2 linked regions of the Homo sapiens genome follow. The protein of the gene in region 1 interacts with the protein of each later gene in a biochemical or structural test. Each region holds a gene or a part of one and is shown on either strand. Other genes may lie near its edges.

Evidence for each region. The genes of interacting proteins can lie anywhere in the genome.
Region 2: the proteins of NOX1 (region 1) and ARHGEF7 form a complex in vitro, tested with the Homo sapiens proteins (one study listed by BioGRID).

Annotation. Positions count from the first base shown.
Region 1 is NC_000023.11:100,850,330-100,857,360, forward strand, and holds part of NOX1 (NADPH oxidase 1), read right to left. Parts: intron 6,113-7,031; exon of another isoform or gene 4,244-6,112; intron 997-4,243; coding exon 904-996; intron 58-903; coding exon 1-57. UniProt on the Homo sapiens protein: NADPH oxidase that catalyzes the generation of superoxide from molecular oxygen utilizing NADPH as an electron donor.
Region 2 is NC_000013.11:111,300,307-111,306,260, reverse strand, and holds the end of ARHGEF7 (rho guanine nucleotide exchange factor 7), read right to left. Parts: intron 5,514-5,954; coding exon 5,414-5,513; intron 4,784-5,413; coding exon 4,729-4,783; intron 3,271-4,728; coding exon 3,148-3,270; 3' UTR 529-3,147; downstream 1-528. UniProt on the Homo sapiens protein: Acts as a RAC1 guanine nucleotide exchange factor (GEF) and can induce membrane ruffling. Functions in cell migration, attachment and cell spreading. Promotes targeting of RAC1 to focal adhesions. May function as a positive regulator of apoptosis.

The DNA.
Region 1 (7,031 bases):
GCTGAAGCCACGCTTGTTCATCTGCAATTCCAAAACTTTGGATGGGTGCATAACAACCTGTGAATGAAGCACATAGACCAAAGAAAGCAAACTCTAATGACGACAGGGACAGGCAGATAAAGCAAATGAGTGAAGCTGGAGGGCTGGTGACAGTGGTGAACTACAAACACAAGTCCTCTCTAAAGAGGGCAGCAGCTACTTAGCTCCAGACAGTGGTTGCGATATGGAACCATGACAGTGTTATCAGGTTTCCTGATTCTTCAAGAGAAGCAAGAAATAGCTTTTAAAAAATCAAACGAAAGCTTCCATCCAGATTTTTAAATGTTGGCAACCAATTCAACTTTATAAACAAACATTGTGTGCACCAAACAAAATATAGCTGTGAACTAGCTCTGGCCCAGGCTGCCTGTTTGCAACCTCTGATATAGACTCATCCTGATGATTTCGGCCAAGCCCCTCTTTCCCAGTTCTGTCCAGTGCTGGAGGAACTGAGGTATGCCAAACCCAAGTTCTTCTTCTTTTTTTTTTGAGACAGAGCCTCTCTCTGTCACCCAGGCTGGAGTGCAGTGGCGCTATTTCAACTCACTGCAACCTCTGCCTCCCGGGTTCAAGCGATTCTCCCGCCTCAGCCTCCCAAGTAGCTGGAATTACAGGTGGGCACCACCACGCTCAGCTAATTTTTTTTTTTTTATTAGAGATGGGGTTTCGCCATGTTGGCCGGGCTGGTCTCGAACTCCTGACCTCAACAGATCTGCCCTCCTTGGCCTCCCAAAGTGCTGGGACTACCACCCACTGTGCCCAGTTTCCAAGTTCCTCTTTCAGGGTGACAACATAAAAATTTAGTTCTGTAGTCCGGTAGAAGATAACTCTTATCACAGCAAGAGGAAAGTGCATATTCTTTACCTTGGTAATCACAACCTTCTGCTGGGAGCGGTAAAACCGGAGGATCCTTTCACAGATATAAAGAATGACCGGTGCAAGGATCCACTTCCAAGACTGCACAGAGACAGGGTTAAGAATGAGATTACACACTAATTTCTTGTTTAGGACTTATTTGTGTAGCAGTTCATCCTTCATTCTTTACTGAGTTCTCCAATGTGTATCATTTTTAAGCTACTAATTTCACCAAATCTGGAAGATGGAAATAGAAAAAATAAAGGACAATGGTTTCGTTTGCTAATCTGTTATTCATAAAACAGACCATTTCCTGAAAATTTACAAGTCTGACCAAGAAGCAGGAGAAAAGCACAGAAATGGAACACATGGTAAATATTCTTATTCTTAAATTACATATAAAATTTAATTTTAAGGCCTGGCACAGTGGCTCATCCTAGCACTTTAGGAGGCCGAGGCGGGCAGACTGCCTGATCTCAGGAGTTGGAGACCTAGCCTGGGCAACATAGCGAAACCCTGTCTCTACTAAAAATACAAAAAATTAGCTGCGCGTGGTGGTGCATGCTTGTAATTCCAGCCACATGGGATGCTGAGGCATAAGAATCGCTTGAACCCAGGAGGCAGCAGAGGTTGCAGTGAGCTGAGATCACACCACTGCACTCCAGCCTGGGCAACAGAGCAAGACACTGTCTCCAAAAAAATAAAATAAGATTTAATTTTAAGAATCTAAGACTGTCTTCGAGGACAGCTTGTCCAATCTAAAAAACCAACAGAGAAAGTAGATGTGAAATAGAGGCAGATGATTAAAAACAAAACAAACACAAAAAAGGGAAAGTATGTGACTGATGCTACTGGTACATAAAACTCAGTACTTATCCATCACCTCCTTTCTCAAGTGCTTAAACATTTAACATAGTAATATCTTTTTTACCTTGTCTACATTTTTTTTAAAGGCAGCTTTTTGGCCAGGCGCAGTGGCTCACGCCTGTAATCCCAGCACCTTGGGAAGCCAAGGCGGGTGGATCACTTGAGATCAGGAGTTCAAGACCAGCCTGGCCAACATGGTGAAACCCCATCTCTGCTAAAAATACAAAAATTAGCCGAGTGTGGTGGTGGGTGCCTGTAATCCCAGACACTCGGGAGACTGAGGAAGGAGAATCACTCGAACCCAGGAGGTCGCAGTGAGCCCAGGTCGCGCCACTGCATTCCAGCCTGGGTGACAGAGTGAGACTCCGTCTCAAAATAAATAAAATAAATAAATAAATAAAGCAGCTTTTCTATCCCTGAGATCTTTGCAAAGCAGCAGTTTGCTTCTACCTGCACAGGAACTACTAAAAATATACTTCCTAGCAATACTAAATTATGTCCTTTCTTGCACAGTTGCTCAAGTGTGATACATTGGGACTGTGTGAAGTGAGGTTTCTTAAGCTGGTGCAAGCAAATAACTTCCTTGAGTATCTCTAGGGAAGGAAGAGGCAGAGATGGGACAAATCAAACAGAGTGAACATTATGCAATTCAGTGCTATTTCTTATTTGAAGAAAATTCCCCAGCTCAATTTGAGGAAAAACATATTTAAGAAATGGATAATAACAATGTGAAAAAAATATTGGCCTCAGAAATAGTCAGAGTAATAAATATTAAAACAAGATACCATTTTAGTCTCTCAAATTGAAAAACAATTTTAATTAATAATGCCCAGCATTAACTGGGATTCAGGGAAATGGGAGTGTTCACGTGGGCATGCAAATTGAACATGCATTTCACAGGGGTGAAAATGCAAATTGGCAACATCTTCCCAGAGAGCAGTTGAGCAGTATGTCTCAATAGCCTCAAAAGCATTCCTTCTCTTTTACCCTGGAACTTCACTTCTGGGAAATGAAGATAAATAATTAAGGTGTGAAAAAGTATTATGCACGAGTAAAGTAATGGCCACAATGTTTACTTTAAGAAATGATTAAAATGGTATATATACCATACACATATTTTCCTTCTCTTTCTCTTTCTTTCTTTTTCTTTCTTTCCTTCCTTCCTTCCTTCCTTTCTTTCTTTCTTTCTTTCTTTCTTTCTTTCTTTCTTTCTTTCTTTCTTTCTTTCTTTCTCTCTCTTTCTCTTTCTTTCTTTCTTTCTTTCTTTCTTTCTTTCTTTTCTTCCTTCCTTCCTTCCTTGCTTTCTTCCTTGCGTCCTTCCTTTCTTTCTTTCTTTTTTTTTTTTGACAGAGTCTCACTCCGTGCAGTCACACAGTCTCGGCTCACTGCAACCCCCGCCTCCCGGGTTCAAGCAACTCTCCTGCTTCAGCCTCCCAAGTAGCTAAAACTACAGGCATGCACCACCACACCTGGCGAATTTTTGCATTTTCAGTAGAGATGGGGATTCACCATGCTGGCCAGGCTGGTCTGGAACTGCTGGCCTCGAATGATCCACCTGCCTCAGCCTCCCAATTAGCTAAAACTACAGGCATGCACCACCACACCTGGCGAATTTTTGCATTTTCAGTAGAGATGGAGATTCACCATGCTGGCCAGGCTGGTCTGGAACTGCTGGCCTCGAATGATCCACCTGCCTCAGCCTCCCAAAGTGCTGGGATTACAGGCATGAGCCACCACTCCTGGCCAACTATTTTAAAACAAATGTTTCAAGGCCGGGTGCGGTGGCTCACGCCTGTAATCCCAACACTTTGGGAAGCCAAGGCAGGTGGATCACCTGAGGTCAGGAGTTCGAGACCAGTCTGGTCAACGTGGCAAAACCCCGTCTCTACTAAATATACAAAAATTAGCAGGGCGTGGTGGTGCGCGCCTGTAGTCCCAGCTACTTGGGAAGCTGAGGCAGGAGAATCACTTGAACCCAGGAGGCAGAGGTTGCAGTGAGACAAGATCACACCACTGCACTCTAGCCTGAGTAACAGAGGGAGACTGTCTCAAAACAAAAAAAAATGTTTCAAAGGAAAGCATCCATTATATCAATCAAGGAAAAACATTATTTCCTCTAGGTGGTAGAACTCTATGAAATTTTTTATTTACTTCTAGTATTTTTTGTATTTTCCAAACTTTCTACAATAAATGTATATTATTTTTCTAATTTTTAAATGGGGTGAATATGGAGAGAGTATTTTTTAAATGTTTATGGAAGAAACAAAGCAATACATTCAGGTGGCAAAACTGGTATTCTCTCTCTTAGAGTATTACACGACCAACCAAAGCAACCCCTAAGTTTTAAGGATACCAAATAGACCAACTATAACTTAACTCAGGTAATAGATGAGAAAAAGACAGAAGCTGATGTGCAAGATAAGACAAGGTATTAACCATCTTAGCTAGTAAGCTTTCCTAATAATCTTTAAATAGCTCCCTATCTTTTTTTTCAAGAGAATTAAATTGTTTATTGATTACACATGATAATGGATGATACACAAGCTTCATTCCCATCTATAATTTTATCTGGTACCATTATTCAACGTAGATATATTGCATAGGATGTGCCAACAATTATTTTTATAACCAATAATTCCATGATTTTGCTTGGGTAGTCCCTTTTAATGGTGAACTTCAGGTCACAACAGTAACTATCAATTCAATTACACCAAGGTTTCTGAAGACAATGGCTTCTCCACCCAAGCAGGTTGTATATAAATTCCAAATAGAACCTGGCATCACCCTGAAGGAATGCTAACTTCACACTGTTGGGGAAATTTACCAAGATGGCTTCAGTGTAGACTAACTTTACACAGCACATTAAAAAAAAAAGACATTTATTCAGTGTCATGATCAGACTATCACATATAGCAATTTTTTGCATGGGTGCAAAAAAAATCTACATTAAAACCCTTTGTTGGAATGCTTTACACTTTCCATAGAACAGAAACTAAAATAACCTGTTATACAATTAGTCACAAATACAGTCCTTGACTTTTTTGCCCATAAACATGAGTATTTGTATAAAACATGTCTTCTTTGTGGCAGCTAGGCCCTGCCACCACTGTGTTTGGCTGAGTTCATGAATCTGTTGTAACCTGTAGCTTCTCTGTCACTTCTCTGGCTCTCCTCTCCTGCTAAGCTTTGATTCCCAATTAACATCTTCTGCCACTGCCATAGCTACTGCTGCTACTGGAACCGCCATAGCCACTGTGGTTTGGTGGTTTGGCAAAGTATTGGCCTCCATCACCCTAGGGGCCAGAGCGTCTGCCCCAAAGTTTCCTCCCTTCATGGGTCCAAAATTTGAATACTGATTGTTGTAATTGCCAAAATCATTGTAGCTTCCACCACCTCCAAAATTGCTTCCACTACCACTGCCAAAGCCGCCTCTGCCTCCCTTGTTACAGCTGTCATAGCTGCCACTCCTGCCATAGCCACTGTCCTGATTTCCACAACCCTGTCCACCACTTCCATAGCCTCTGCTTCCTCCAGAGTAACCAGGGCCGCCTCCTGGATAACCACCATCATTACCAAATCCATTATAGCCATCCCCACTGCCACCATATCCACCACCATCATGGCTGCCACCAAAGCCACCATGACCACTGAAGTTTCCTCCACAACCAAAGTTTTCATTCCCACCAAAACCACCTCCACGACCACTTCGACCTCTTTGGCTGGATGAAGCACTAGCCATCTCTTGCTTTGACAGGGCTTTCCTAACTTCACAGTTGTGGCCATTCACAGTATGGTATTTCGGAATGACAATCTTATCCACGGAGTCATGGTCGTCAAAAGTTACAAAGGCAAAGCCCCTTTTCTTGCCACTGCCTCAGTCATGATTTCAATCACTTCCATTTTTCCAAACTGTTCAAAGTAATCTCTTAGGTGATGTTCTTCCGTGTCTTCTTTAATGCCACCAACAAATATCTTTTTCACAGTTAAGTGGGCACCTGGTCTTTGAGAATCTTCTCTTGAGACAGTTCTCTTTGGTTCCACAACTTTTCCATCCACCTTGTGTGGCCTTGCGTTCGTGGCTGCATCCACCTCCTCCACAGTGGCGTATGTGACAAACCCACAGCCCCTGGAGCGCTTGGTGTTTGGATCTCTCATTACCACACAGTCTGTGAGCATTCCCCATCACTCATAATGGCTCCTCAGGCTCTCGTCAGTTGTTTCAAAGCTCAAATCTCCAATGAAGAGCTTCCTCAGCTGTTTGAGCTCTTTAGGAGACTCTGACTTAGACAAGATGGAAGGGAGAAGAGAGACTTTAACGATGCTTCTTCAGTGGCGTACACGGGCGGAAAGGCAATAGCTCCCTATCTTTAAGGTCCTCTTGTCTACTAGTCCGCTAATACAGATCCCTGGTTATGATCTTATAATTTCCTCTGACTTTAGAAATGAAATGTGCTATTAACATATCCCAGGTATGTCCTTCCAAAATTACTTTTTTTTTTTGAGATGGGGTCTTTCTCTGTCAACCAGGCTGGAGTGCGGTGGTGCCATCACAGCTCACTGCAGCCTCAATCTCCTGGGCTCAAGTGATCCTCCCATCTCAGCCTCCCATGTAGCTGGAACCAGAGTCGTGCACCACCATGCCCGGCTAATTTTTTAATATTCTGTAGAGACAAGGTCTTCCTATGTTGCTCAGATTGGTCTCGAACTCTTGAGCTCAAGCAATCCTCCTGCCTCAGCCTCCCAAAGTGCTGGGATTACAGGCATGAGCCACTGTGCCCCACCCAAAATTACTTTTTTTTTTAACTTCTATTTTAGGTTCAGAGGTACATGTGCAGTTTGCAGGTAAACTACATGTCACAGGGGTTTGGTGTACAGATTATTTCATCACCTAGGTAATAAGCCTACTACCCATTAGATAGTTTTTTGATCCTCTCTCTCCACCCTTTCTCCATTCTCAAGTAGGCCCCAGTGTGTTATTCCCTTCTTTGTGTGCATATGTACTCAATGTTTAGCTATCACTTATAAATGAGAACATGTGATATTTGGTTTTCTGTTTCTACATTAGTTTGCTTAGGATAATGGCCTCCAGCTCCATCCATCTTGCTGCAAAGGACATGATCTTGTTATTTTTTATGGCTGCGTAGTATTCCATGGTATATATGTACCACATTTTCTTTATCCAGTCTACCATTGATGGGCATTTAGGTGGATTCCATGTCTGCAGTTTTGAATAGTGCTGCAATGAACACACAAGTGCATGTGTCTTTGTC
Region 2 (5,954 bases), on another chromosome or scaffold:
CTGGCTGAAATGACATGCAGCGGAGCTGTAGACACACCTGAGCCAGGTACACGGACCATGGACAGGAGACCCCGCTTGGTCCTCCCGGCCACCCTTCCGGAAGACACCCTCGTTTGCACCACCGCCACACAGGGACACACACGAGCAATTTCCTTTTGTCTTATGACAGCTCCTAAAAGGGACCCCACAGATATCTTCAAGAAAGTTTCGCTTACTTGATCCCACAAAACGGTGTCCTGAGCGCCTTCCAGAATGCAGGTCATTCCTCCAGGCATGGGTGAGGACCTGGGGGCTGTGCCTACCAGCGTGACCTGTTACTTCAGCTTTTGTTCCTAAGACTTCCAGTGTTCTTTCCTTGTCTTTTAAAAAAAAATCTTCAAATTTTCTCAAACTCTAGACTTTAAAGGAAACATGTTATCTTCAGTATCAAAGACAGACAGAATTTTCAAATCTAAAACAGCCCAAAGAAACTGTAAAGCTAACAAGCACACAGAAAACACATCAAAGAAGACGAAGCGACACATTCTGTGACATAAGAAAAATAATCAGTTTAATAATTACAACAGTGTAGCATCAACATTGTAGTAGTCAACACTAGGACATTGTCTGTGACATTTAAATTAGGAGTTTCTCCACACTTGTCAACAGGCGCCCTGGGTGTCCCAGAGAAGTGAAGAAATGATTGGCATTAAGGAGTCCACACAACCAGGGCAGGCATTCAAGGTCCCAGACGCCCAGCGCATGTGGACAAGCACAGACGCCACTGAGTGTGAAGGAACGAGCTTCTGATGCTACATTCCAACATCGCTGAAAACTGAAAGTGCTTCACATCTACAGGATAAGAAATGGCTTCATCTCCTCATCCATACAAGGTGAGAGCAAAGGAGTAACCCTCGGGCAAATCGTGGCCCCTTTAAACGTTTATATCAAGTTCCCACCCCCTTGGGAGGTCACACGGTGAAACAGACACAGTTATATACAACAGGGCAGGTTTTTAAAAAGAGTTGCTCTCAGACGCATTTTTCCTGCTCCCTAAAAAGCCGAGGAAGATACTGGATCCACAGAAAGAAAAGGCAATGCCGTAACATGAGGCCCTCATGGCCGCACCGTCCAGGGGAAGGGCTGTTAAAAACACAAGTATTCTTGTGAAATACTTCGATCTGAGCATTAAGGCAGGTCTGCAGGAGATCCGTCCTGGGGACTCGGACAGCAACGCTACCGGCTCCGAGAGGACAGTTAATGTCGCCTCCCGGCAGAGGGGCGGAGAGATCAGACAAGAGTTGTTCCTGAGTTAAAACCTGCTACAACAGCAAACTCCAATAAACTCAAGTTGAATGGTTTCCCACTGCAATGTCTTACGCATCACCAAAAAATAACTTGTAAAACTCAAGCTTACCAAAAAAGAAAGTGTTGATCTTTGCTTGTGCCCGCATGAGTGAATGATCTGCTAAGTTGAGGAAGCTGGCAATTCTAGTGAAAAGTCCAGGTGAGGCCAGGTTCTGCAGCATGGGGCAGGTCCACGCTGAGCCCAGGCAGACAACGTGACCAGTCACGGAAGGAAGCCAAAGGGGCTTGCTGGGCACCAGAGACTGTAATTAGCAAGGGCAAGGAAGAACCGTAAACAGCAACACAACACTCTCCCAAGGTGCCCAGCTCAAAGGCATCAGTACACAAAGGATTCAGGTGCAGTTAAAGGGCAATTTGGCCAATAGACAGAAAATCAGAGAGTCAAATCTGATGCGCAATGAGTTGTTCTGAGACCAGTAATCCACGGTGCTGCAATTTGGGTTTTTAAAGATAGAACACTTGTTCTACGGAAAAGTGTATCTCACTTTAAAACCAACCTTTTCACAGGAAAGGAAACCAAAAGCAAAGTCCCTGTGGTCACCCTTATTTATTGCTGAAGCAGAACGAAAACCTGCTCCACGGGCCGGGCTTCCTGCCCAGGACCGCACAGGCTTTCCAGAGCCAGCCTGGGCCCAGCGAGCCGCGGTGAGGACAGGCTTCGTCTCCTCTGCACTGGAACACAGTGGGGGAAACGTTCCCTGCTTATGCCTATGTTACTTAGTGGAACCTAAGGTGTATATTGCTTTATTCTTGCTGAAGGAGGGGATTTTACTTTCGGTGAGCACTGAAGCCTGCTGGCTACGGCCAATGGTGGAGGAGACCTCGGGATGAGGCTGGCCTGATGACAAAACTCCACCCATCAGTATCAGCCTGCAGCATGGCCTCCATCTGTTTTCATCAGCTGCAGTGACTTATAATAAATAATACATTCTATTTACAGGTTCTAGTAAGATCTCTCTTTGAGGGAAGACAAAACAGTGTATTTTGTTGTTACTGAACTAGCCTATACAGAACCGTCTGTGTCCTCCCAAAACGCAGCAAACTCATCTGAGAATCACAGTACTCAGACAGCGGACAAGAGCAAACACCTCTAGGTGGATGCGGCAGTGCCGTATGGGCCTTCCTTGAGGTCAAGACTGAGTCTGTCAGCCAGCAAGTTGCCCTCAGAAACCCGCAGGTCTGGGACTGTAATGCTGCTTTAAGAGAAGACTTCTGAATGGGACTGAAGTGTATCTCTGCAGGTATAAATAAGGTTATTTAGAAATACCGACATGGGGGGTGCTGCCACAGCACGGTGGAGGCCCTGGTGCTGCGGAACGAACCAGGCATCCACCAGGCTTCTGCTTCCGGTGGATGCGGGCATGGGACTTCTTATTCACGTAGCTGGAAAGGACATTCTAGCATGGGGATTAGCCCGGACAGAACCACCACAGGTATGCATTCAAAATGGGATATTTACAAGAAACATGTATATATAATATTTATATATTCAATTCAAAGTCTGGAAAAACAAGACTTTTAGTCAGTCACTGAACTTATTGCAGAATGAGGTAACTGAGATGTTCACAGAGTGGATTGATGTAGCTCAGGTCCTCAGAGTCAATCCCTCCTGTCTGGATTCATCAGTCATGGTTTGATCGTCTCCATTCGCAGAATAAGCTCCAGCTTTTCTATATACAGAGAGCAAGGTGGCGCCCCACCCAGCCCTGCCCTGTGGTCCTGAGTGCACCCCGACTTGGGTCAGGGGTGCCCAGCTTCACCTCAGAACTGGTCTTCAACAGAAAGAACTGAGGACATCCCTTATAGATTGGTCTCATCCCAGGCAGGATCATTCATGTTCTTCAGGACTTTCCTCACCAGCTTCTCCAGGTCTTTGCGGGCTCTCTGTTCTTCCTCTAGAGATTTCTTCATCTTTTTGTTGTCCTGTAAATTAAGCAGACCACAGGGTGTTCACTATCTTTGGCATCGCGTAGGGCTTCCTTTCCCCAAATGTGTATCCTTGAGGAGCTAAGGCCTCGATTCATGAAATCCCACGTGAGCTGCCTATGGGCTCTGAGGTCGTGGGGATCCACGAAGGTCAAACACCTGGACAGGGTGGCAGCGGTGCTCCTGACTGTGCTGCTGTTCCCGGGATGGAAATGGTCCTAATGGCTCTTATTAAGTCCATGAATGAATCTCTATAGAACATACCGTAAGAAAATAGCTGGAAACTGCGGACGAGACAGCTCCTATCCAGCCTTTTTGTCCATTTATAACCACCTTCCAGAGTTACAGAAAGGACTGGAAGTAACAGCCACTGACAGGTGCAGGAGCAAGTGGGCGAGCACCTGCTCTGTGCAGCTGAACCCAGGCATGTCTCGGACGTAGGAGGCATGCACAAACAGATGCCTGCTGCCGGTAGGGGCAAAGCGTGAACATGGAAGCCTGCCAGCCAGGCAAAGGTGTACCTGGAAGACCTGCGGACACTGCTTAGAATGACAGCACATGTCCAGTTCCACACAGCAACCTGCTCTCAGCTCTCTATCCCAGACCACAACTCTTCTCAGGCTGTTCCTCGGCCAAAAGAACACCCCAACCTTCCCTCACCTAGCTGGGCAGAGGACCAAAGCCGCTCGTACTCACATTCCGTGCAATGAACACCCCAACCTTCCCTCGCCTAGCTGGGCAGAGGACCAAAGCTGCTCATACTCACATTCCGTGCAATACCCAGAACACCCTTGGTTAGTCGCCACTTCTGGCTCGCTAACCTGGCTTCGGGAGCCAAGGACCATGCAGTGGCAGAGGCTAATCTCAGGGGCGCCTCGCAGGATTTGTCACCAGACAGAACTTTCGATATTTTAAATTATTCTTCCAACAGAATTTGCGATGTTTTATGACATCAAAATCAGTATTGTTAAGAAAAAAAAAAGAGTTTAAACAAGTCACTTTAGAGACAACCAATTATTTTATCTGCTGGACTTCTCAAAGACATGACCTCCTTTTAGTTTTTTGCTTATGGACAATCAGCTTTTTATTTTTATTTGAGACGGAGTCTTGCTCTGTGGCTCAGACTGGAGTGCAGTGGCACAATCTCGGCTCACAGCAACCTCCGCCTCCTAGGTTCAAGCAATTCTCCTGCCTCAGCCTCCCAAGTAGCTGGGTTACAGGCACCTGCCGCTATGCCCAGCTAATTTTCGTATTTTCAGTAGAGATGGGTTTTTGCCATGTTGGTGAGGTTGGTCTTGAACTCCTGACCTCAGGTGATCTGTCCACCTCGGCCTTCTAAAGTGCTGGGATTATAGGTGTGAGCCACCGTACCCAGCCAGCTTATTTTTAATGTAATTTTCTTCTTTTCTCCCATTTGAAAAGAAAAAAAAGATTTAAAGATGGATTATGACGTACCTGTCTTAATTCTTGAACTTCATCCTTTAATGCATATACGGTATCCACAAGACTCCTGAAACAGGAAACAGAACACACACACATGAACAAGGTGAGGCATGGAGAGGACACACGAAAACTTACCAGGAGACACTACGATGCTGAGAGGAGGACACGGAGCTGCTCTGCCTTACCCATGTACTGTCTACATTCACAACTAAAAACTGCCAACCTCTGTGCATGGCAGGTTCAAGCCTAGTCAAGGGCAACTTCAGCCTATGAAGACATTTTAAAAGTGAAGCTCTGGCCAGGCACAGTGGCTCACACCTGTAATCCCAGCATTTTGGGAGGCCGAGGCGGGCAGATCACCTGAGGTCAGGAGTTTGAGACCAGCCTGGCCAACAGGGTGAAAACTCGTTTCTACTAAAAATACAAAAATTAGCCAGGCGTGGTGGCACAGGCCTGTAATCCCAGCTACTCGGGAGGCTGAGGCAGGAGAACCGCTTGAACCCGGAAGGTGGAGGTTGCAGTGAGCTGAGATCGCACCATTGCACTCCAGCCTGGGTGACAAGAGTGACACTCCGTCTCAAAAAAAAAAAAAGTGAAGCTTCTGAAGCCATACCCCCGCCCTCAGGGAGTTGTCTGGACTCTACTACCCCACCGCAGAGGTCAAACATCTGCTTTAGAATACCGGAAGACATCTTACTTTTCTTCTATCACTGTCTGACCATTACTTTTAGTTTCTTCCACTATAATTTTCTCTTCTTCTGGAAGCAAAACTTGTGGAGCAGATTCTTTGCGTGAACCTAGGATCATGAAAAAATAATAAATAAACCTCAGGCGAATACCATGGCAGAATGAAGAAAAACAACTTGACTATACCATGTCACTTAAATATTAAGTTCTAGCAATTATGCATTTAAAAACGTTCATCCAGGCAAGCTAGAGGAGGGCATCTTTTACCAGTTCTCTTCACCTCTGTCTACCGAGCCCAGGCCTCCTCATGACCAAAGCCAGAGAGGGAAGGAAACTGTAGCCCTTTTCAAATCGGAATTACGGATTGTTGAAACCCCAGCATTTTCAACAGGGAGGAAGTTAAAGGTTGTGACTGTACTGCTCTGGATATTCATCCCATTTTGAGCCATTATTCCAAGAGTTTCAGCAAAGACATATGAGACCAATCAGAACATATACAGTGAGTGTTTATACATCAAAGATCTGGCAATAAAAACATTTTACTCTACAGC